5 separate regions of the Homo sapiens genome follow, and regions 1, 2, 3 and 4 are each linked to region 5. The links come from fine-mapping of genetic effects on gene expression. A gene starts in region 5. Each other region holds a variant in brackets. All regions are shown on one strand. Distances are between the middles of the regions.

The links.
Region 1: its variant is fine-mapped to the expression of ZDHHC6 in monocytes (Fairfax 2014, PIP 0.95).
Region 2: its variant is fine-mapped to the expression of ZDHHC6 in lymphoblastoid cells (TwinsUK, PIP 0.95).
Region 3: its variant is fine-mapped to the expression of ZDHHC6 in whole blood (INTERVAL, PIP above 0.99).
Region 4: its variant is fine-mapped to the expression of ZDHHC6 in whole blood (INTERVAL, PIP above 0.99).

The regions. Positions count from the first base shown.
Region 1 is chr10:112,365,872-112,370,975 of GRCh38, forward strand. No RefSeq gene overlaps it. Among named protein-coding and RNA genes, the nearest start is that of ACSL5, 5.7 kb to the right of the region's middle. The variant TA/T (reference allele first, on the strand shown) is at 2,748.
Region 2 is chr10:112,414,852-112,419,955 of GRCh38, forward strand. It overlaps ACSL5 (acyl-CoA synthetase long chain family member 5), which reads left to right. Exons shown (of 21, transcript NM_203379.2): 13 at 2,037-2,171; 14 at 2,995-3,090. Among named protein-coding and RNA genes, the nearest start is that of ZDHHC6, 30 kb to the right of the region's middle. The variant T/TAAAAA (reference allele first, on the strand shown) is at 2,350.
Region 3 is chr10:112,423,115-112,428,218 of GRCh38, forward strand. ACSL5 (acyl-CoA synthetase long chain family member 5) reads left to right here. Exons shown (of 21, transcript NM_203379.2): 18 at 2,224-2,367; 19 at 3,144-3,245; 20 at 3,674-3,745; 21 at 4,104-5,104. The coding sequence ends at 4,244. It also overlaps a transcript of ZDHHC6 not described here. Among named protein-coding and RNA genes, the nearest start is that of ZDHHC6, 21 kb to the right of the region's middle. The variant TA/T (reference allele first, on the strand shown) is at 2,481.
Region 4 is chr10:112,388,442-112,393,545 of GRCh38, forward strand. All of the region lies in intron 1 of ACSL5 (acyl-CoA synthetase long chain family member 5), which reads left to right. Among named protein-coding and RNA genes, the nearest start is that of ACSL5, 17 kb to the left of the region's middle. RefSeq lists silencers at 1,038-1,167, 1,188-1,237. The variant C/CA (reference allele first, on the strand shown) is at 2,927.
Region 5 is chr10:112,444,041-112,449,144 of GRCh38, forward strand. ZDHHC6 (zDHHC palmitoyltransferase 6) reads right to left here and starts at 2,874. Exons shown (of 11, transcript NM_022494.3): 1 at 2,665-2,874; 2 at 1,130-1,610. The coding sequence starts at 1,396. It overlaps VTI1A (vesicle transport through interaction with t-SNAREs 1A), which reads left to right and starts at 3,175. Exons shown (of 8, transcript NM_145206.4): 1 at 3,175-3,427. The coding sequence starts at 3,334. RefSeq lists enhancers at 2,661-2,780, 2,981-3,240.

The sequences.
Region 1 (5,104 bases), 78 kb before region 5:
ACCAGCCTGGCCAACGTGGTGAAACCCTGTCTCTACTAAAAATACAACAACAAAACAAAATTAGCTGGGTGTGATGGCAGGTGCCTGTAATCCCAGCTACTCGAGAGGCTGAGGCAGGAGAATTGCTTGAACCCAGGAAGCAGAGGTTGCAGTGAGCCAAGATTGTGCCACTGTACGCCAGCCTGGGCAACAGAGCGAGACCCTGTCTCAAAAAAAAGGACTTCATTAGGTTCAGTGGTCTCTGGAATCTGGACATATTCACTAAGACCTTTAAGTAACATTTGGTTGCTCTGCCTGACTCGTCTCAACCTGCTGTGAAATCTGCTTTGCAACCAGCTGTGCTTCCTAAAGAAAGGCAGATTTTCAGAGACAAGCTGCAAATCACTTGGCTTTGCAAAATCGCCTGAAATTATTAAAAAATAACACTTGGCCCCACCACCGTCATCACTCTGTTACCAAGCTATAGGATCTTGGGAAGGGATGTCATTTCTCTGAGCTTCTATTTTTCTTGTCTGTACAAATCATAACTACCTTCCAAGTGTATTGTGAGGGTCAAATGAAGTGTTTGTCACAGGACCTGGCTCCCAGCAGCCACTGGAAGTTTGGATGTTGAAAGTATTGTTCCCACTCAGACCTCACAGGTTTGCTAAGAGGCAAACTAGAAGCATTTTATAAACCGGGAGGAGCTATGTGAATGCATGATGGCACTATGTAAAGTTAGTCTGCTTATATTGTCTGTCTTTCTCTGCTTTCTAAAACATGGGGGGCTGGGTGCGGTGGCTCACACCTGTAATCCCAACACTTTGGGAAGCCAAGTCAGGCAGATCACTTGAGGTCAGGAGTTCAAGACCAGCCTGGCCAACACGGTAAAACTCCATCTCTACTAAAAATACACAAAAATAATAATAATTTAGCCAGGCATGGTGGCAGGTGCTTGTAATCCCAGCTACTCGAAAGGCTGAAGTAGGAGAATGGCTTAAACCCAGGAGGCAGAGGTTGCAGTGAGCCAAGATTGTGCCACTGCACTCTAGCCTGGGCAACAGAGTGAGACTTCATCTCAAAAGTAAAATAAAATAAAATAAAACGAGGGGAAAGCCTGGTTTCTGTTTCTGAAGAGTTGCCAGCCTCTGCCATTAAAGATAAAATGACTATTTCCAGGCTGTGTTACAAAACTCTAGAATGTTAGACTCTAGTATTCTAGAACAACATTGTGTAGTACATGTGTGGTTTCTTTGGCCCTAGGAAGAGGGTGGGAGTGTATACAAACAGTTCCCAGCAGTGTGGTTGTGAGTATGTCAGCATTGTAGCGGGATTGTATACAAACAGATCCCAGCAGCATGGTTGTGAGTATGTCAGCGTTGTAGCTGTGGGGCAGACTCCTCACTCCTCCAGACCTCACCTATGAATGACCTTAAAAGTGAAAGTTTGTACTTTTTAGGGGCTGCAGGATGCCCAAGCCTAAAGGTTATTAATTTTCGTATTGGATTCTAAATGGATATGGCTGTAGGAGGGGAGGGAGTGACAGAGCGTGTTGCAAAGAAGCTTATCTAACACGTTTTTGAAGAGAGAGGCTGTAGGAAGCAGTGGTTTATCGAGATGGTGTAGCCTGCTCGGGCACTGGAGACCTGGGTCCTGGGCTTATCTCTCTCATTAGTTAATACATCACCTGAGCCAGCTGCCTCACTTTTTGGCATTTTAGGTACCCTCACAAGTAAAATGACTGTTGTTGGATCAGCTGATGTCCCCCACACACCCACTCTCATACCCACCTGGGCTGTCTAGTGGTGATGCTGTGAGTTTTGTTTTATATTTCCCTAAAGAGGTGCGACCGTGACTGCCGATACCTCCTGCTGTGGCCAAAGCACTTCTCTGAGACTTGGCCTGCTGGCTGCTTTTGAAGACCACCTCTCTCCTGGAGCATCTGAGGAGTTCCATTCTGTGTCAAGTTTTCCCCCCACCTGCAGGCTCACCATAGCCAAGACTACCCCAAATGCAATCCCTTGTGACATTTCAGTAGCCGGGCCCTTTGAAGACAGGATAGCTGCTTGAAGCAGAGATGATCCTAAATGTGGTCCAAGGGTGGTCCCCAGAGCAGCAGCATCCGTATCACCTGGAATTGTTAGAAATGCAGATTCTTGGGCCCCAGATCAGACCTACGGAGTTAGAAATTCTAGCCAGAAATCTATGTTGTAACTAACAAGCCCTCCATGGGGATTGTGATGCTGAAGTTTGGGAACCACTGGCTTGGAGTATCTTACTCTCCAGTAAGTGTGGTATCAAAGGAGTTCAGTGGGTTGCTACTTAACACAACTGGACTCTAGTCCAGTCAAGTAGTTGTCACACCCCTAGTCCCCATTGAACTGTGTCTTCTTTAGCCACTTCTTAGAAGCCCTTTTCTTTCACATACTAAGGAAGGACTAAGACTCTAGCAAAAACGTGACCTTCAAGAGTTAATGAACAGACTGGGTGCAGTGGCTCATCCCTGTAATCCCAGCACCTTGGGAGGCCGAGGCGGGCAAATCACCTGAGGTCAGGAGTTTGAGACCAGCCTTGTGAACATATAGTGAAACTCCATCTCTACTTAAAAAATGCAAAACTTAGTCAAGCATGGTGGTGCACGCCTGTAGTCCCAGCTACTTGGGAGGCTGAGGCAGGAGAATCACTTGAACCCACAGGGCGGAGGTTGCAGTGAGCTGAGATCACACCACTGCACTCTGGCCTGCGTGACAGAGCAAAACTCCATCTCT[TA/T]AAAAAAAAAAATAGTTAGTGAACCAGGTTGGGTGCAGAGGCTCATGCCTATAATCCTAGCATTTTGGGAGGCTGCAGTGGGTGGATGACTTCAGCCCAAGAGTAAGAGGCTAGCCTGGGCAATATGGCAAAACCCATCTCTAGTAAACATTTTTAAATTAGGTATGGCGGTACATGCCTGTAGTCCCAGCTACTCTGGAGGCTGAGGTGGGAGGATAACCTGAGCCCAGAAGGTGGAAGTTGCAGTGAGCCGAGATTGCACCACTGCACTTAGCCTGGGTGACAGAGGAAGACCCTATGTCAAAAAAAGAAAAATCCTGTGTTTTGAAGAATCCAGGCCTCTGTGGCTCAGCAAACGTAGGTGGCTGGAGAGAGGACGGACCGTTACCTAAATGGTGTGGTGGCACTGACCTGTAGTCCCAGTGCTCAGGAGCCTAAGGTGGGAGGATTACCTGAGCCCAAGAAGTCAAGGCTGCAGTGAGCCATGATGTTGCTACTGCCTGAGTGACAGGAGTGAGACCCTGTCTTAAAAAAAAAAAAAAAAAAAAAAAACGGCCAGGCACAGTGGCTCACACCTGTAATCCTGGCACTTTGGAAGGCCGAGGCAGGCAGATCACTTGAGGTAAGGAGTTCAAGACTAGCCTGGCCAACATGGTGAAACCCCATCTCTACTAAAATACAAAAATCAACCAGGTGTGGTGGCACACATCTGTAGTCCTGGCTACTCCGGAGATTGAGGCAAGAGAATGTCTTGAACCCCAGGAGGCAGAGGTTGCAGTGAGCCAAGACAGACCTGCTGCACTCCAGCCTGGGCAACAGAGTGAGACTCCGTCTCAAAAAAAAAAAAAAAAAAAGTTAATGCACATGAGAATCTGACCTAAGAAGACTTCTATGTTAATATGCTAGTCTCTCCTCCACACAAGAGTCAACAGGAAGTGGTATTAGCTTCTGATTTTGGTATTGGTCACCTGACCAAATACAGTAAGTGAGAGGTGACAGCGTGCTGGCAGCCCTCACAGCCCTTGCTTGCTCTTGGCGCCTCCTCTGCCTTGGCTCCCACTTTGGCGGCACTTGAGGAGCCCTTCAGCCCGTGCTGCACTGTGGGAGCCCCTGCCTGGGCTGGCTGAGGCTGGAGCCGGCTCCCTCAGCTTGCGGGGAGGTGTGGAGGGAGAGGCGCGGGCAGGAACCGGGGCTGTACGCGGGGCTTGTGGGCCAGCGAGAGTTCCGGGTGGGCGTGGGCTCGGCAGGCCCCGCACTCAGACCAGCAGGCCTGCCCCGCTGGCCCCCGGCAGTGAGAGGCTTAGCACCTGGGCCAGCAGCTGCTGTGCTTGACTTCTCGCTGGGCCTTAGCTGCTGCCTCCCTGTGGGGCAGGGTTCGGGACCTGCAGCCTGCCATGCTTGAGCCTTCCCCCACCCAACCCCACCAGCCATGGGCTCCTGCACAGCCAGAGCCTCCCCGACGAGCACCGCCCCCTGCTCCACGTTGCCCCTTCCCATCGACCTTCCAAGTGAGAGGTGACAGCATGCTGGCAGCCCTCACAGCCCTCGCTCGCTCTGGGCACCTCCTCTGCCTGGGCTCCCACTTTGGCAGCACTTGAGGGGCCCTTCAGCCCACTGCTGCACTGTGGGAACCCCTTCCTGGGCTGGCTGAGGCCTGAGCCCGCTCCCTCAGCTTGTGGGGAGGTGTGGAGGGAGAGGCGTGGGCGGAACCGGGGCTGCGCATGGTGCTTGCGGGCCAGCCCGAGTTCCGGGTGGGTGTGGGCTCCGCGGGCCCTGCACTCAGAGCGGCCGGCTGGCCCTGCCGGCCCCAGGCAATGAGGGGCTTAGCACCCCGGCCAGCGGCTGCAGAGGGTGTGCTGGGTCCCCCAGCAGTGCCGGCCCACCAGTGCCGGCCCACCAGTGCTGTGCTGGATTTTTTGCCAGGCCTTAGCTGCCTCCCGGCGGGGCAGGGCTCAGGACCTGCAGCCCGCCATGCCTGAACCTCCCCCACCCTCCGTGGGCTCCTGTGTGGCCGGAGCCTCCCCGACAAGCACCGGCCCCTGCTCCACTGCGCCCAGTCCCATCAACCACCCCAAGGGCTGAGGAGTGCCGGCTCATGGCGCGGGACTGGCAGGCAGCTTCACCTGTGACCCAGTGCTGGATCCACTGGGTGAAGCCAGCTGGGCTCCTGACTGCTGGGGACTTGGAGAACCTTTATGTCTAGCTAAGGGATTGTAAATACACCAATCGGCACGGTGTATCTAGCTCAAGGTTTGTAAACACGCCAATCAGCACCCTGTGTCTAGCTCAGGGTTTGTGAATGCACCAATGGACACTCTGTATCTAGCTACTCTAGTGGGTACTTGGAGAACCTTTG
Region 2 (5,104 bases), 29 kb before region 5:
ATGATTCCTCGGGCTGGGATCCGTGAGGAAGTAATGCATGGCCATTCTTCACATGCTTTGGAACCCTCCCCCACCTCCCCAACCACCTCCAAGATTTTAACTCTTCCTTTCACTCTTAGGACTCTCAGCAGATGCTAAATGGGCTCTGGTGACAGGGCAGGCAGTGTTCTAGCAGAACTGATAACAATTCCAGCAGTTTCTTACCATGCTACGCAATTAGTAGATTTGGTGGTTGTTATGGTTTTTGTTCATATGTTGTTGTTGTTGTACATTTTTTATTTTTCAGAGATAGTTATTGTATAATATAATACCTAATACACAGTTCACTTCTGGAATGTATTTTTTTTTTGTTTTGTTTTTGTTTTTGAGACGGAGTCTCGCTCTGTCGCCCAGGCTGGAGTGCAGTGGCACGATCTCGGCTCACTGCAAGCTCCACCTCCCGGGTTCGTGCCATTCTCCTGCCTCAGCCTCCTGAGTAGCTGGGACTACAGGTGCCCACCACCACGACCGGCTAATTTTTTGTATTTTTAGTAGAGACGGGTTTTCACCGTGTTAGCCAGGATGGTCTCGATCTCCCTGGAATGTATTTTTAAAATGAAGGACTTTATTAGCACACGTCTCTAATACTAGCTCTTTGTCAGTGACTTGTTGAGGGAGGGTGAGTCTTGTGAATGTTGAAGAAAGATAAATCTCTTTTAGTTGAGGGAGATTCTAAGAATGGCATGATGCAGGAAGCATTTGAGCATGGATCTTGGAGACAGATTATGACATACTGGTACAATGATAATGTTATAGGCATAAGAAGATGCTTATGTCCTAGAGCACAATTTACATTAGAAGATGAAAATTATCACCCCTGCTTGGCTGGAGGCCCAAAAATGGGGTTATAAACATGGAAGATGGATGGAGAGGGATTCTTCAAATTTTGAACAAGAAAAAAGACTTCAATTGCCTTGAATCTGACTTCCAGTAGGGTGGAATCTTGAAAGCCAGATAAGAGTTCAGGACTAAATTTTGGAAATAAGGGGTCACTTTGAGCTGTACTTGGGGAAGCTCTCCTTTGGCAGGAGTGTGGTTGATGGAATGTAGGGTCACAGTGAGGTCAGAGTCAGGGAGACCAGGGAAATCATGCGAGCTGGAAAAATGGTGTCAGAATTAAGCCCAAAGGGAAGAAATCATTTTAGTAGGAAGGTAGGAAACTCTGTTGGGGTTTGTATGGTGTGGCTAAAGACACCTTGTTTATAGGGAAGGGTGGGAATTCTCCAAGTTCAGTTATATAAGCATTACAGAGGGAGAGGGAGGAAGACATGATACTTGTTTTAAAAAATCAGATTCCTGGGCCGGGCGTGGTGGCTCACGCCTGTAATCCCAGCACTTTGGGAGGCCAAGGCGGGCAGATCACGAGGTCAGGAGATTGAGACCATCCTGGCTAACATGGTGAAACCCTGTCTCTACTAAAAATACAAAAAGCTAGCTGGGCGTGGTGGCGGGTGCCTGTAGTCCCAGCTACTCAGGAGGCTGAGGCAGGAGAATGGCGTGAACCTGGGAGGTGGAGCTTGCAGTGAGCCGAGATGGCGCCACTGCACTCCAGCCTGGGCGACAGAGCGAGACTCTGTCTCAAAAAAAAAAAAAAAAAAAAAAAAATCAGATTCGTAGGCTGCCCTTTGACCTACTAAATCAAAAGCCCTAGAAGTGGTGCCCATTGAGCTGTGTTTTTTGTTTGTTTGTTTGTTTTAAATCTAGTACCCCCCAGGTGACTTTTTAGGCAGTCCCTCTTTATCTCAGTTGTCAAGTTGTTTCCCAAGGACTAAAAATTGGGGCAGGAAGTGGGAGGACTGGAGCTCTGCATTAAGTTCACTTCTTTCTGAGCATGGCCATAATTCTCTGGGCTCATCATTATTCAGCAATCCAATTCATGACTGTGAGACTGTGAGACCACTTCCTTATAAAGCTAGAACACACTGTTTCTTGCTCACTAATGGCTTTGATGAGTATCTCCAATAGGTTTCCAACTAAAAGGAGCTATCACTCTGCAGGTACAAAATGAGGCCAAGACACCCTTGAAGAAGTTCTTGTTGAAGCTGGCTGTTTCCAGTAAATTCAAAGAGCTTCAAAAGGGTATCATCAGGCATGATAGTTTCTGGGACAAGCTCATCTTTGCAAAGATCCAGGTAGGTTGGGCAGGTCCTGGACTGAAGCAGGCAAATACCTGGGCTGCCTTCTGACTCCTTAGACCTTGCTTTTCCTCTGCTGCTTGAGCGTCACTTTAACTAGAGATCCTTTCAGACTTTGTGTCCACTGCCTTTTGAGATCTTTCTTGTACCACTTTACTACTAAAGGGAGTAGGTT[T/TAAAAA]AAAAAAAAAAAAAAAAGCAGGCTGAGTGTGGTGGCTCACACCTGTAATCCCAGCACTTTGGGAGGCCTAGGTGGGTAGATCACCTGAGGTCAGGCATTCAAGACCAGCCTGACCAACATGGTGAAACCCAGTCTCTACTAAAAATACAAAAATTAGCCGGGCGTGGTGGTGGGTGCCTGTAATCCCAGCTACATGGGAGGCTGAGGCAGGATAATCGCTTGAACCCAGGAGGTGGAGGTTGCAGTGAACTGAGATAGCACCACTGCACTCCAGCCTGGGCAGTAGGGCCAGACTCTATCTCAAAAAAAAAAAAAAAAGTTTTATTTAGGTTCTAGCACTCTCTCTTATTTTCTTTGGTGGTCTGTTGAGATTATAAGCAATTTGAGGGGCTGAAGAATACAAATTATTTGAGAAATATATGGCTTCTGGTCCCAGCTATGGATAGTGATGACAATAATAGCTAACATTTTAAGTGCTTTTCTACAATCCAGACTGTATTCTAAGTGCTTTGTAAATTAACGTGAGAATTGATGTCAGTTTAATTCTCATAACAACGCTGCACAGGCTATTATACCCACTCTACAGTGGAGGAAATTGAAGCCAAGAGAATAGGTTTTAGTATGTCTTTTGTTTCCACTGAACAGGACAGCCTGGGCGGAAGGGTTCGTGTAATTGTCACTGGAGCTGCCCCCATGTCCACTTCAGTCATGACATTCTTCCGGGCAGCAATGGGATGTCAGGTAAGCCAAGCACCTTCTTTGAGAATAGGCTATTTTACTTTTGCACAAACAGGCTCACTGTTTAAATAAAAATGAAAACAACTAAAAGGTACCAAAATGAAAGTCACCTAAATTCTCAAAATCCAAAGAAAATATCCTTCTAACCATCTCTTCAGGCATCTGTGTGTAGAAACCTTCACATAAATAAAACCAGTGCTCTAAAACACTTGTTAATGTTGCTCCTTGTCAAATAAAGCTCAGCATCATTTTAATGATTTCACAGTAGTTTACTGAATGTAGTTGACCCTTGAACAATGCAAGAGTTAGGATTGCCTACCCCCATGGCAGTCAAAAATTCATGTATAATACTTGACTCCCTAGCCGGGCATGGTGGCTCATGCCTGTAATCCCAGCACTTTGGGAGGCTGAGACGGGCGGATCACGAGGTCAGGAGATAGAGACCATCCTGGCTAACAAGGTGAAACCCTGTCTCTACTAAAAATACAAAAAAATTAGCTGGGCGTGGTGGTGGGCGCCTGTAGTCCCAGCTACTCGGGAGGCTGAGGCGGGAGAATGGCGTGAACCCGGCAGGTGGAGCTTGCAGTGAGCTGAGATTGCGCCACTGCACTCCAGCCTGGGCAACAGAGCAAGACTCCATCTCAAAAAAATAAAAATAAAAAAAATACTTGACTCCCCAAAAACTTAACTACTAGTAGACTACTATTGACTAGAAGCCTTACCAATAATGTAATTAATCAACACATATTTTGTATATGTATTATATACTGTATTCTTACAATAAAGTAAGCTAGAAAAAAGAAAATGTTATTTAAGAAATCATAAGGAAGAGAAAACATATTTACTATTCATTAAGTGGAAATGGATCATCATAAAGGTCTTCATCCTCACTGTCTTCATGTTGAGTAGGCTGAGGAGGAAGAAGAGGAGGGGTTGGTTTTGCTATCTCAGGGGCAGCACAGACAGAAGAAAATCCACCTATCAGTGGAGCTGTGCCATACAAACTTGTGTTGTGCAAGGGTCAACCGTACCCAAATAACTAATCTCCTATTAATGGACACTTGAGTTGCTTATGATATTTTTCATTGTTATAATCAATTAATAATCTAGAATAAATCCACGCAAGAAGGGATTATTGGGTCAAAGTAATACACACAATGTATCTGTGTGTGTGTGTGTGTGTGTGTGTGTGTAATAATGTATATTATCAAACTTTCTTCCAGAAAGATCTTTTTTGCACATTTCTGCAAGTATACAAGGCCTTATTTGCCCATGCTCTTGCCAGTGACAGACTTTATCAGTCATTCAGATATTAGCTAATCAGATAAATGAAAAATCTTATTACAGTTTTGTTTCTTTTATTTACACCAAACATCTTTCTATTGCTTATTGACATGTATATTTTATCCATGAATTATTCTATTACTTCCTTATAGAAAAACAGGCAAAAGATAATTTGGTCCTTTTTTATATTTCTAAGAGTTCTTCACAGAGTAATACAGGTTGAGTATCTCCCTATTTGAAATGCTTGGGACTAAAAGTGTTTTGAATTTTGCATTTTTTTCCAATTTTGTAATGTTTGCATTATAAAACAGTTGAGCATTCTGAATCTGAAAATCCAAAATCTGAAATGCTCCAAAAAGCATTTCCTTGGAACATCATGTTGGCACTCAAAAAGTTTTGGATTTTGGAACATTTTGGATTTCAAACATTTGGATTAGAATAGTCAACCTGTAATATTAACTTTTGTCATGTTGGAAACATTTTTCCTGGTCTCATCATTTTTGCCCTGTGTATTGCCATATAAAAATTTCCAATGTTTTTATAGTCAAACTAAATAATCTTTTCTATTTGTAGGTTTTAAACTGCTTAGACAGGACTTCCTAACCCCCAATATTTCATAAGACTGTTTCACCCTTATTTTCTGGCAAACTTACCATTTTCCATTTTTTCCTTTTAAGTCTCAGTTCCACCTGAAATTTGTCCAAGTGCTTGGCCATGCATATTGTCTCAATTT
Region 3 (5,104 bases), 21 kb before region 5:
GAGGCGGAGCTTGCAGTGAGCCAAGATCACACCACTGCACTCCAGCCTGGGGGACAGAGCGAGTCTCTGTCTCAAAAAAAAAAAAAAAAAAAAAAAAAAAAAAAAAAATATATATATATATATATATATAGGCTGGAAGTCATGAGATTTGTGTTCTGGTTGCAGCTCTTCCATGGATCAACAATATAAAATTCTGAGAAAGTAATTTAACGTGTGAATAGGAGCTGCCAAAGCTAGAAAGTCTTTCTTAAAAAAAAATTTTTATAGAGATGGGGTCTCGCTGAGTTGACCAGGATAGACTCAAACTCCTGGCCTCAAGCAATCCTCTTGCCTTGACCTCCCAAAGTTCTGGGATTGCTGGTATAAGCTACCACACCAGAAGTACTGCCAGAGTACTTTTGGTATTTTGATCACACTGTTACAGAAGACACCAAGATGTAGACCAGTTGAAGTGTTTTCTTCTTGCCTTATTCCTTATCGAATATACAACCAGCAAGCAGTAAGTCAGTGATCCTAGCACTGTTTTTAGACCCAAACTGAAGGTGGGATTCTTTAACAGGTCAGGTAGACCTGCACATCAGAGTTGGCATGGGTCCCCTGCAATGGAATAAATTTGCTACCAGCCAGGGAAAAATTAGGTGACTTCTCTAGGAAAGGGGAAGGGAGATGTACTACTCTGTCCTTTTTTTTTCCCCCTTAACTTTTCTTGAGGCAGAAGTTGTGGTTTGAAGCCAAGTGTGGCAGCTCACGCCTATAATCCTAACACTTTAGGAGACTGAGGAGGGAGAATTGTTTGAGGCCAGGAGTTTGAGACCAGCCTGAGCAACATAGCAAGACTCTGTGTCTACCAAAACAAAACAAAACAAAAACCCAAAAAACTTTGGTTTGATAATGCCGTTGGTCCACAGCTTTTGCCTCTTATGAGTTTCTTGGGATAAATATCCTCCCTATTAATTCACAGGCATATCAAAACAAGGAAGAAGGATTTCTAAATCAAGTGTTTGCAGAGGCTAGTGTTTGTCTCTCATTGACCTTCACAGCCCCTTTCTGTGGAAGATACAGAGACATATTTTTAGCATAGCTTGATAATTAGCAGTAGTTGCTATTAGTTTTCCTAAGAAGAAAGGAAATTATTGCAAGGGCAGTGATGGGATTTCCCAAAAGATCTTCCCTCTCAAAAGTTTTGTCTTAACTATGTGCTGGGGAAGTGGGAATGTCACTAGAACTTAAAACTCCTTTCTTGCTCAATCAATATTTAAGATTTAAGTGAGATTTAAGGAATGCTTGACAATGTAACTTTTAAGAACACTGGTCCTAACGATGCATTTTATTGATTTGGGTTTGGTAGTATCTTGCTAATATATTTGTTTCTGTCTAGTAACAGAATTAAATAACACTCTAATAAGCCTAGGATGTAAGCAACAGATATGTCCCCACACCAGGGTTATAGAAGGCTGCACCTTATTAATCACTTTCAGATAATGAACGTTAGGCTGAATTGATGGCTAATTTATCAAGTCGGCCTTGTGATAGTTCCAGTGTTGGTTTAGTTAGTCGCCCTACTTAGGGTGTTAGCATGTGGATTTTATTTGCCATTTGTCCCAATTCTACAATTCAAATCCCTAAAGACCTAAGCTCCTCAGACCAATTAGTTCAGAGAAATGAAGCTGCAAATGACCTTTGGTGGCTGGTCAGAGTCCTCTCAGCCCTGTTGCTGTCCTAACAAGCCCAGTAATTGAGTTGCTTGATTAGCACAGTGGAGCTGTTTGAGCCTGCTCCCGGATCTAACAAGGAGGAAAACATAACAGGGAGTCAAGTGGTGGGAGAACTATTCAAATCAAATCAAAAGTCTAAACAAAAGACAACACCTCTATTTCTGAGAGTTCTGAAAATGAACTAATTGGAAATTAGTGATTGGAAATTGAGAGCTGTGCAATTTCTTCCTTGGATGAGGCATCAATTTGCATAACTCCAGTAGATCCAGGAGACTTTCTCTAAGGCTGCGCATTGACTCTCCACATAGATATACAGTAAAGACAGGTTCTTGCTGCACGATGCTTCCCTCCCCTTTCACCAAAGCCAAGAAAGAGAAATGAAAGACAGCTCAAAAGTCTCTGGAGAAATCAGCTTTAGAGAAGAAAGATGACTGTGACTTCACCACTCTCCCCACTGATATCATCTCTGTGGCTCAAAAATACTGATACTTTTATCTGTCTCATGTAGAATGGAACTCTGAAGATCATCGACCGTAAAAAGAACATTTTCAAGCTGGCCCAAGGAGAATACATTGCACCAGAGAAGATAGAAAATATCTACAACAGGAGTCAACCAGTGTTACAAATTTTTGTACACGGGGAGAGCTTACGGGTAATATATCATTTTAACAATAGCCCATTTCAGTCACAAACCATGCTGGTTCTTGTAGCTACAGGAAATTTGTATAGTTGGGTTCAGAATGAGAAGATCCAAGCTTATAAAAC[TA/T]AAAAAAAAAAAAAAAATGAAGTTACATTCCAAACCTCAAATAAGGCAATTTCAATTTAAAAAATTTCAAAACTATGATGGACGTTGTACACAAGTCAGTAGAATTGTTTAGAATGGCTATACTAAAAGGTAATGATTCAGTAAAAAATGAGCTCCACATTGCACTTAGTTCCCATTCCTTAAGGAGTTCCTTAAAGCTATGTTTAAGAGCAGTATGTATAAAACAACAAACTGTTGCAATATATATAAAGCAACAAACAAAAGTTTGATCAACAAACTGTTGTTTTATACATACTATGCTTAAACGTAGCTTTAAGGAACTCCTTATCCCAAAACAACGAACTGTTTTATACACACTGTGCTTAAATGTAGCTTTTAGGGGACAAGGGGAGAGTTGACATGGACAAGCCAGAGGCGCTTTAAGCTTAATGTTGAAGGATCAGATTTGAATGGAACATCTTTGTAATGAGATATTGAGTGGGAAAATGGGATTACAGTTCCATGGTGTTGAAAATATATGGTGAGAAAAGAACACTAGTACTGGATTTAAGGTTTTGGGGAAATAACTATTACAATGACATAATTCTGCTTTATTTAACTACTGGGGGACATCCCTACATAACTTCTCTCATGCCCTTGCACCTTTTATTTCCTTTCCATAGTCATCCTTAGTAGGAGTGGTGGTTCCTGACACAGATGTACTTCCCTCATTTGCAGCCAAGCTTGGGGTGAAGGGCTCCTTTGAGGAACTGTGCCAAAACCAAGTAAGTCTTGCCTAGGAAAGCTTTATGCACACCCATGGGCCCATCGTGGAGGAGAGGATGCCTCACCAGTTCCTGCATCTGTCACAAGTGGCTGCAGCCCAAACAGACTGAATAGTTTTATGGGACTCGGGGATAGGATGGAGAGTTTAAAAAATAAAACTCTCTTTTCTATTTAAAATAATATGTTCATTGTGGGAAAAGATTGGGAAAGAAGAGTAAAAATGCTATTCAGAGAAAACTGTTAACACTTAGATGTGCCTTTTCTTCTCAGTTTTTCTTTCAATATTGGGCATATAATGTGCTTGTGCATAGTTTTATATTCCTGCTTTCATACTGCATGGCTTTGACAGGCACTTTGAGTTGGTTCATGCTTAGCCCTTCAGGCTTTTTGAAACAGCCATGCTTTAAGTGATGTTTTGTATTCTTAGGTTGTAAGGGAAGCCATTTTAGAAGACTTGCAGAAAATTGGGAAAGAAAGTGGCCTTAAAACTTTTGAACAGGTGTGTGCTACCACTGATGTTATACTGGCCTCTTGTCAGAAAGTTTTGTTTAAAGTTTCCATCTAATGAGGTTTAAATGTATAATTTCTAAGGAATTGATTTTAGATTTTGTGCCATTAACTACAAAATGACCTTTTGTAGTTACTTGTACAGCGCCCTTTTTTTGCTGTTTATTGTCCATTCTCCCTTCTCCCTACTCATTACTTTCTTAAATTATGTTTGTGGGAATGGGCATGTGTTACTGTTACCTTTACCCTTTCACTGCATCAACCTCACTTTCTTCACAGAGCACTCAGGGGGCTCTGCAGAGAAGTCCAAATCACTAATGAGCATGGATGTGTGTGTGTTCATCTTCCAGGTCAAAGCCATTTTTCTTCATCCAGAGCCATTTTCCATTGAAAATGGGCTCTTGACACCAACATTGAAAGCAAAGCGAGGAGAGCTTTCCAAATACTTTCGGACCCAAATTGACAGCCTGTATGAGCACATCCAGGATTAGGATAAGGTACTTAAGTACCTGCCGGCCCACTGTGCACTGCTTGTGAGAAAATGGATTAAAAACTATTCTTACATTTGTTTTGCCTTTCCTCCTATTTTTTTTTAACCTGTTAAACTCTAAAGCCATAGCTTTTGTTTTATATTGAGACATATAATGTGTAAACTTAGTTCCCAAATAAATCAATCCTGTCTTTCCCATCTTCGATGTTGCTAATATTAAGGCTTCAGGGCTACTTTTATCAACATGCCTGTCTTCAAGATCCCAGTTTATGTTCTGTGTCCTTCCTCATGATTTCCAACCTTAATACTATTAGTAACCACAAGTTCAAGGGTCAAAGGGACCCTCTGTGCCTTCTTCTTTGTTTTGTGATAAACATAACTTGCCAACAGTCTCTATGCTTATTTACATCTTCTACTGTTCAAACTAAGAGATTTTTAAATTCTGAAAAACTGCTTACAATTCATGTTTTCTAGCCACTCCACAAACCACTAAAATTTTAGTTTTAGCCTATCACTCATGTCAATCATATCTATGAGACAAATGTCTCCGATGCTCTTCTGCGTAAATTAAATTGTGTACTGAAGGGAAAAGTTTGATCATACCAAACATTTCCTAAACTCTCTAGTTAGATATCTGACTTGGGAGTATTAAAAATTGGGTCTATGACATATTGTCCAAAAGGAATGCTGTTCTTAAAGCATTATTTACAGTAGGAACTGGGGAGTAAATCTGTTCCCTACAGTTTGCTGCTGAGCTGGAAGCTGTGGGGGAAGGAGTTGACAGGTGGGCCCAGTGAACTTTTCCAGTAAATGAAGCAAGCACTGAATAAAAACCTCCTGAACTGGGAACAAAGATCTACA
Region 4 (5,104 bases), 56 kb before region 5:
CCTGAATGACTTCTTATGATCTAAGATTTGGGGGTTTAAGGGTGGGGTCTTTGTACTGCAGGGAAAATGAGTTAACTGAGAGTATATGGAATAAACAATTGTGACCTGGAAAACTGTTCATTTGCTCAACAACCACTTGTTGAAAGTTTTTTATGTGCCAGGCATGGTGGGGGCATCAGAGACACAGCAGTAAACAAAATTAAAATCTCTGTTCCAAAGAGAACATCAGCTCAGTTGGCACAATGAGTGATAAGGAGCTAGGACTATTTCCCAGTGAACAGTGTCATGGAGAAGAGAACAAAGTCCATGACACTGACTGGAAAGGTAAAGACAATATTCAATAAGGTGATCAGAAACAGTGAGCCTCCGAGGAAGTGACATTTGAGGTGAGGCCTGACCTATCAGCAATACACAACCATTTCAGATCTGGGGAAATGTTCCAGGCAAAGAGAAGAGCAAATACAGAGGCTTCCAGATGGGAACAGACTTCGAATAGGGTTTGAGTGGGATATATACATAGGAAAAATACAATCTTTTAAAAGATAGAGACTATCAAAAGAAAATGATTTTTAGCCAATAGGGATAGTATGAAAGATTCATAGCAATAAACATAGTTGACCAAAAATTTAAATATTAGAGTAGAAGGAGCCATTTAGGACATTTATCCAAAGAAAAGGAGACTAAATGAAGACATGCTGCCCCAAGTCCACAAAAGGAAAAAAATCCGAAGCTGAATATGGGGTGATCATAACCTAGACACCAAGAATGGTCCAGGAAGCATGCACAGAGGTGTGAAGGCAGAAGGCGTCCTTCAGCTAACTTGGGAATAAAACATGTTAGGAGCCAGGAGATGAGTGACTGTGGCTCCAGTCATCCATCCACAGGAGAGGGGAAGGCCCTGGAGTGGATCAAGGACAAGGATGGTGGACAAATGGGCATCCTGGGGTCTGAGGCCAAGGCATGTCACCATCACCACGTCAAAAAGTGGAGTAAGCCTTTTGACATGGGACATCCTGGTGTGTACTGGGGCTTGTTCAGCTATTTGTATATTACGTGAAACAGGAAATCCCAGACACAGCATGACAGAGCCCTCTTTCCTCTTTTCTTTACCACTATTGTGCTTTTCCCTACCGTAACCAGGAGTGATGTTAAAAGGAAGAGGAAATGCCAGTCACGCCCACTGCTTACAGGGGATTCTGTGGAGTGACTAAACCAGAGCTGTAGTTTGAGTCACACAGGACGTGTGACAAAAGGAGGGTGACTTTTTTCCCCCTTGTTTCTTTGAACTTACTTGGAAGTGTTAACAGATTCTAATGGTTAGAATGGTAAACAGAGCTTCCTACTCCTGTCGTGGTTTGACCCAGGAGTCTCACCTTCTCTCAGGCCCTTAGTTTCTTCCACTTAAACAGTGAGAGAGTTACATGATATGGTTGCAAATCCTCTCAGCGCTAATCTTGTAAGGTTAAAAATGTTTGAGTGTATTGGGCATTAAAAAGGAGACTATACACCAGGCACAGTGGCTCACGCCTGTAATCCCAGCACTTTGGGAGGCTGAGGTAGGAAGATCACTTGAGCCCAGCAGTTCAGAACCAGCCTGGGCAACATAGTGAGACACCATATCTAAAATAAAATTGTTAATTGTAAAAAAATAAAAATAAAAAAGAGATTATCAAGATAGTAAAAAGACAACCTACAGAATGGAAGAAAATATTGCAAATCATATCTCTGATAAGTGTTGTGTGTATATATATATATGACCTAATTTTTAAATGGGCAAAAGACTTGAGTAGACATTTCTTCAAAAAAGAAATACAAATGGCCAAGAAGCACATAAAAAAATGCTCAACATCCTTAGTCATTAGAGAAATGCAAATCAAACCCACAATGAGGTACCATTTCACACCTACTAGAATGGCTATTTAAACAGACAAAGAGAAAGTAGCAGTGTTAGGGAGAAGGGAAAGAAATTGGAACCCTCTTACATTGCTGGTTGGATATAAAATGGTGCAGCTACTGTGGAAAACACTTTGGTGGTTCCGCAAAAAGTTAAATATAAAATTCGCATTGACTCAGCAATTTCTCTCCTAGGTCTACACCCTAAAGAACTGGAAAAAGATATTCAAACAAAAACTGTATAGAAATGCTCGTAATAGCTTTGTTCACAATATCAAAAGTAGAAACAACCCAGATATTCATCAACTGGTAGATAGATAAATAGATAGATAGATAGATAGATAGATAGATAGATAGATAGATAGAGTGTAGTCTATCCATACAATGGGATAACATTGAGCCATAAAAAGAAACGAAGTACAGACATACTACCCCATCAATGAATCTTAAAAATTATACTATGTAAAAGAAGTCAGACACAAAAAGTCACATATATGGTTTCATTTATATGAAATATTTAGAATAGATAAATCCATAGCAACAGAAAGCAGCCTAATCCTTTCTCTAGAGGCTGGGCATTGAAGGGTTTGTTAATGGGTTCAGGGTTTCGTATTTTATGGTGATGAAAATGTTTTGGAACTAAATAGATGTAATGGTTGCACAACATTGTGAATGTACTAAATACTGCCCGATTGTACATTTTAAAGTGGTTAATTCTACATTATGTAAATTGTATCTCAATTTTTTTAAAAATTGAGGAAGGGCCAGGTGCAATGGCTCATGCCTGTAATCCCAGCACTTTGGGAGGCCAAGGCGGGCGGATCACCTGAGGTCAGGAGTTTGAGACCAGCCTGGCCAACATGGTGAAACCCTCGTCTCTACTAAAAATGCAAAGTTAGTTGCGCATGGTGGCAGGCACCTGCTACTCAGGAGGCTGAGACAGGAGAATCGCCTGAACCTGGGAGGCAGAGGTTGCAATCAGCCGAGATCATACCACTGCACTCCAGCTGGGCAGCAGAGCCAGACTGTGCCT[C/CA]AAAAAAAAAAAAAATTGAGGAAGGAACCATGTGAAATTCTGTGCACCTCCTACTTGAGTTGGATACCTGGTCAGTGGTAGCAAACTAAGCAAGCTATTTCCATTGACAAATACAAATAAATCCTTCCTTCATTGTCTTCCTCAAATAAAATCCCTTGCCAATATAGGCAAGGTATTTTCATTCTCATGAAACTGTGGCTTTGAAATGTGTAAATATCTCCCTTGTTTGTAATGAAGTGGTCAGTCTCGTTCTGTTTGTGGGCAATATGATTGAAGTCTGTCTCAAAGGAGTAGTCAAACATTAACAGACCGTGATCCAAATTAAACTATGAAATGTGTTCTTGTTTATCCCATGCCAGACTCTTAAAAACGGTTGTTAGTTAAAATTGAGGTTTCAAAAAATGCAGTCTTCTGGATTATCTAGGGAGGGGGCAGAATTCTGACAATCTGTGACCCATAGTATTGTTACTATATGGTAACAATCACCTGAGATTGACAGCAGGTGCCCCCTTGAGACGCCATAGATTCTCTGTCCCTTTTCTCCCATATGTATTACCAGTCAGGTTATTCACTCTTCTTCCTGACCCCACCCCCATATCACCACAACTGAACAGAAATTCAACTTTTAGACTCTGATTCAAAGACATTGTTTGCAAAGTCTCCTATTAAAATATAAATGTGCCATCTGGAAGAAGAGGGCAGAAATCCTTAGTGCAACCATTTTTTTCCATAGTCGAACAGGAGGGTGTTGGTAAGGATCTCTTAATTTGTGGGTGGGATTGAGGCAGAGGGAAAAAGCCCAGATAAAATATCACCAGCTTGGGGTGGTCGTGGTGGCTCACACCTGTAATCCCAGCACTTCGGGAGGCCAAGGTGGGAGGACCACTTGAGCCCAGGAGTTTGAAACCAGCCTGGGCAGCATGGTGAGGCTGTGTCTTTACAAAAAATTAAAGAATTGGCCAGGTACGGTGGCTCACACCTGTAATCCCAGCACTTTGGGAGGCCAAGGTGGGAGGACCGCTTGAGCCCAGGAGTTTGAAACCAGCCTGGGCAGCATGGTGAGGCTGTGTCTTTACAAAAAATTAAAGAATTGGCCAGGTACGGTGGCTCACACCTGTAATCCCAGCATTTTGGGAGGCCAAGGCAGGCGGATCACGAGGTCAGGAGATCGAGACCATCCTGGCCAACATAGTGAAACCCCGTCTCTACTAAAAATACAAAAAAGTAGGCCGGCATGGTGGCAGGCACCTGTAGTCCCAGCTACTTGGGAGGCTGAGGCAGGAGAATGGCGTGAACCCGGGAGGTGGAGCTTGCAGTGAGTCGAGATTGTACCACTGCACTCCAGCCTGGGTGACAGAGCGAGATTCTGTCTCAAAAAAAAAAAAAAAAATTAAAGAATTAACTGGGTGTGGTGGCACACACCTGTAGTCCCAGTTATTCAGGAGCCTGAGGTGGGAGGTTCACTTGAGCCCACGAGGTTGAGGCTGCAGTGAGCCAGAGTTGTGCCACTGCACTCCAGCCTGGGCAACAGAGTAAGACCGTGTCTCAAATATATATATATATATATCCAGTCTTGTCACAATATCCCAGCCTGAAGGGAGTGGCTGGTGGCAGACTGGATGGGAGAGCACAAAACAGGCACGGGCTTCTCCTCCCCTTTGGTACTGCCACCTGCTTTTTCAATTTCACAGTCTTCCCTGAGGCAGTCCTCCCTTCTCTGCCTGGGCTTTATGGCTAGTTTTTGAATGCTTTTGCCTCCTGGAGTACCTCATCATACAAGTCCAAGTAAGGCTGAATTCCAAAAATCCCAACTCTCAGAATCCTGCCAGGTGGTCACAATAGCACCCTTGTTTTTATGTAACCTAGCACCCATGGGACCTGGCTTTTATTTTTGTTTTTACTTATTTTTCTCCCCCTAAATGCAATATGGAAAGAACCAAGGAGTTGAGGACTATTATCCCAGTTTCTGGAAGTTCAGTTTTCTCCTCTAAAATGGAAAGGGACTCTCCAAAATCAGGTAATAACTAATCGAGAGGCAGAAAGATAGTAAGAGTGGCCCAGGGTTTCTTGTGACTGTTCCTGCCCCCACACAAAATTCCTGCACCTTGTGGCCTTTCTTAGACTAGAGTGAAGTGTGTTTCCATTGTTAAAGATGGTTCCAGGTGGCAGCTAATGGCA
Region 5 (5,104 bases):
CCTTTACTGTAGTTTTTCTTCAGCACAAACCGTGTATTGTCAAAATAATATTCCTATAATACACCTCTGACTGTGTCAGACTCTGCCTGAAAACCCCTACAACTTTCTATGGTCTACAATTTCTCATGTATTTAAGACTGTCACAATCTGCCTTTGTTTCAGCTGTCTCTGCCCTACATGATCTTTTCCCCAGTCACACAGGGCTGTCTACTGTTTCTGAATACGTGGTCCCACCATTCTTTCAACCTGAAATGCCCTCTTCCCCATCTCCTTTGGAAATTCCCACTCCTCCCTCAGGTCCCCAACTAACAATGCTCAATTCTTCTAACTTTAACAGCACCCATCACGTTCTACTTTATAGTTTAGTGATTTGCACAAGTGCGTTTGTTTCTTGCTTAGGTTATAAGCTCTTTCAGAGTTCAAATTACATCTTACCCTCCTCTGTACGCATTTTGAATAGTACATAGCACATGATATACACCAGTGCTTCCCGAACTTTAATATACCTAAGCATCACCTGGGCACTTTATTAAAATAAAGATTCTGCTTCAGTATGTCTGAAGTGGAGCCCAAGATTCTGCCTTTCTGACAAGCCATCAGGTGTGGTCCCTTAGCAGGAAACATGGACATTCATAAGCATAAATTTCCCAGTAGTTTTTAAGCTATAAATGGATTTGGACTATACTTCCCAATGTTATATTTTCAGTGCAATGATTTTAAAACTTTATGATTTAAACCAGCAGTTTCTAAAGCGTTTTTCTCAGTTCTAAGGGATGTTAATGTATTACATGAAAAAAGGTACTACAGCCAAACCTCACTGTGTATGACATGTGATGTTTCCTAAACTTTTGACCATGAACCTATCCCACCTCCACCCCACCTCCATCTTTTTTTTAATGCAGAGCAAATATTCAATAAAATTGCTTTGGAAAATGCTATTTTGGATCAATGTGTTCAAACAGATATGAAATAAAGTCTCCGAGCCTAAATGATCAGTGATTAGAGTAATATACTTAGTCTCTGTGAGGACAAACAGTAGGCTGTGTTTGGTATTATTGGTTAGTAGATAAGGCAAAAACCAAATATACGATTATCATTAAAGTTCATTGTCTTACAGAATCTTTCTTACCGGTTTCCACCCCAGAGGGACAAAGCCCGGACCGACAAACATGGCATTGAAGTAATTATAAAGAATCATGACAGTCCAATTTATCAACATGATGAAATTCACACTTCCTCCAGTTGTATGTAAGGGCCAATACCACAACACAGAGTCAATCATGGCCATGGTAGAACATATTGCTATAACACCAAGGGCTATGATGGGACCCCAGTGACACAGTCTCTTTAATTCTTGTAGATTTTCAAACTTGATAACCGAACAGAATGTACCCATTTTGGCAAGGAAGAATGCCTTCCTACTTTAAAAGAATTATAGATTTCCTTTTTCTGTGCGCACATTTCCATGTGCCACAAGTCCATGTGTGTTCTTTAATTGTCATGCCTTCAAGCTGTGAACTGTTAACGCAGATTACACCATTTTCACTGTCAGGCACCCAAAGCTCTTTATCTTAACTAGGAGAATCCAGTGTCTTGGTCTGAAACCCAACCTAAAGAAAACAAAATGGGAAAGTTCAGTTAAAACAAAACAAAACAAAACCTTTATTGCATACCATACTTGTTAACTACAATAAACACCTACACAACAGCATCTCACAAGTGCACTACACTTTGGGATGCATATCTTGTCAAATGTCAAAAAGAACTACTTTTGACTTATCCAAAATATGGTACAAGTTTGAATGGCATGCAAACTGGATACACGATTCCAAAATAGTTTTTTTTATTCCTTCTCCGCTTGTCAGGGGACTGTCACCATCCAACGCTTAGTGAATAGTTTGAGAAGACAAAGAATTTTAGGACCTTAGAGTTGATCTAATTCAGTTTCCTTCTTCATAGAACAGAAATTGTCTTAGAGAGGCTGAGTGATTAGACCAAGGTCACAAGTAACAGGTGAACCAGAATAGAAGGCAAGTCAACGACCTCCCTTTATGAAATTCTAAGCTGCCTCTTATGAAGTCTTGAATTAAGCCAAGTATGAGTCAGACATGGTCTATGCCATTTGCCTGCAGTCTCCTCCACCCCGCCACCCAAACATCAAGAGAACAGTCAATTTGGCCCAAAAGTAAAGGAGCGACAGTGAAAGCAAAGAGAGCATGCAAGGAAAGGAAGGGAGGAGATAGAGCGAGAGTGTGTGTGGTGTGTGTGAAATTATGACCAGAAGAGTATATGAGAAGAACCTGAATTAGAAGATTCGAGGGAAGAAAGAAGAGGAAGTGCCTCCAGGAGCGAGGGAAATGGAAGGCAGGGCGGCGAGCTCCGGAGAGATTTGTGGAAGGGCATCTCTGCCTGGACTGGATCTGAAGATCTGGAAGAGGATCTGAGCTACATGGATAATACAGACTACCACGCAGCAGACGCTGTTGACTTGTGCCTCAGTTTCCCGCCCGAGTCATGGAGCAGAGGGCTTAGAAATAAATCCTCACCCAAGGAAGAAATATCCTGGTAAGCCAGGTTGGTCTCAACATTCAGGAGAGCCTGCTCCCACTCTGGTGGGACAAAGACCACCAAAATCGTGCTTATATTCCCTGCCTTGACTCCCACCTCAGTGTGGTCCCTGGTGTCTGCTCCTCAGCCATCGCATATCCGGGGCGGCCTGGGCTCACCCGGAACAGATTTTTTCCTCCTTGGATGACTCCGTCATGGACACCTCAGCCCAGGACAAGCAGAGAGCAAACCCTGGCAGCGAGAGGCTGGAGTGCGGGACCTGCTACAAGCCGAGCACCTCTCGGCCAGCGCCCTCGCCAGGACTCTCCCGCTCAGGCCCCCTGCGCAGTCTCTGTTACTGTCACTTCCGGAGGTTCGCCGCCTCAAACCTCCCTCCGGAAGCAAGCTGCTGTGCCTTGTAGCGTGTGGATCCGGAGCCGATTCCCAGAACACGAAGGGGGGAAAAAACGCTTCTAATGATCCCTCAGAACTTGCATATTTTCATACGCTTTTCTGGGGGGAGGCACTAATTGGGGCGCTTTTCCTTTGCGAACTTACTTATCTTAAAGTCGGAGCGGAAAATAAAGCACGCACGCAACCCAATTTCCGGAGAACCGAGATTGCGACGAACAACCAGGAAGCGGCTGGGTTGAGAGCTGTCCCCGGTTCTCCGTTCTGCTCTCGGGGGCACCTTCCGGGGTTCCTAAGCCGCGGGGCCCCTCGCTGCCCCTCGAGGCCCTTTCCCTGACCTAGGCTTTGGCCTGGGCTACTCGTTCCGGAGCCGCCATGTCGTCCGACTTCGAAGGTTACGAGCAGGACTTCGCGGTGCTCACTGCAGAGATCACCAGCAAGATTGCGAGGGTCCCACGACTCCCGCCTGGTGAGAGCCTTGCCCGGCTGGACGAGGGTGCTGGGGAGAGCTGGGAGGGTGCGGGCGGTGGAACGCCGCCCGAGTAAGTGTGTCTATGAGGCGCGAGGCTGGAGTGGGTGGTGCCGGCTGTTCCCAGGAGGGATACGGCTTGGCTTGGTTGAGGGTAAGGAGTCAAGTTCGGGTGTGGGGTGCCGTGAAAAGAGCCTTCGGAATCTGAGCCATCTGAGTTCGAATCCCGGCTCTACCTTCTTGTAACTTGCATAACCTGGAAACGTTTCTTAACGTCTTAAGAGTCTTAATGTTTTCATTTGTAAATTATAGACATGTGAGTATTCAAAGAAAATGAATGAAAGTATGTAGCCTATGGATCTACAATCTACAGCGGCGTTGTTGTGTTAGTAATAATATTGTTATAATTATATGCGGCAAAATAGAGGTAAGAATCAGGGTGCCTAGATTCAAATCCTACCTCTGTCACTTAGAAGTTGTGCCTCTTAACCCGGGAGGCGGAGGTTGCAGTGAGCCAAGATCTCGCCATTGCACTCCAGCCTAGGCAACAAGAGTGAAACTCCGTCTCAAATAAATAAATAAAATAAAAGTTGTGCCTCTTAAACAGACTTCTTAGTCTCTTTCAACTTTCCTTCTTAGTAAATGGGGGAAAATTGTACTTCTCTCATGGGGTTGTTAGGTAGATTAAATTTATATAACATATTTAAAGTCACTTTTGGTGTTGTTAGTTGCTGTATTAGCATTAGTATTTTTCATACCCCCCACCCCCATTTCTTGTTTCTCATCCTTCTTGGGGATTTATTGTATAACCCAGTTTCATGTAAAACTTGGTACAAGATAATTTTTCACACTTAAAAATTTCACATCTCCCATCTGGAAATGTTTTTGTTTTTGTGTTTCCTTTTGTGTTTTAGCACATCTTATTTTCTATGCTAGACTGTCAACTATGTGAAGGTGGGAGCTGTGTCTGATTTCCTTGGCGTTTACTTATTAGGGGCTCAGGAAAATAAGTGAATGAGCAGGTGAATATAAATATGATCTTTTGTAACTATGGTTTGTACAATGTTGATTCGGGGACTATCTTTCTCTACAGATTAGAGTAGTTAGTTACAGAAAAGGGTTTTACATTTTTGTTTAGTTTTGTTAGGGAAATTGAACCATCATCTGGCTGCTAGACTTGTCCCTACCCTAGCTCCAGGATATAAAGTGTAGAAAGGTGGATGTGCTCATTAATCTGCGGATTGGTGGGCACTTCACTTGCCCACTTGTCCTGGTACTAGCAATAATTTCTCCCGGACCTAAGTTGTCATTCCTCTTTCCCTTTCCCTACTTCCCCCAAAACTTATGTGTTTATAAGTAATTTTCTTCCCTTATTTCTTTGTTTTTCTTCCCCTCACCTATTTTCTGTTAATAGGGATATTTGCTTGAAGCCAGGATCTCTGAACTTATACCCCACTCATCTCCTGAAGTCCCCAGTTAGTTCTGGAGGAGATGGATGATGTCTTAAAGAGGTTTATGAGTCCAAGTAAGGGAACAAGAGGAGAGAACCAAGGTAGTATATACCACCAAGCTCTGCTGCCTCAGAGATTTTTGTGTCGAAAGTGGCTGATGGCCTCATCTCTTCATGATACATCACCTCGCCTCTTCTCTTCAGTTCTGCTTTTCTCCACTGCCGGA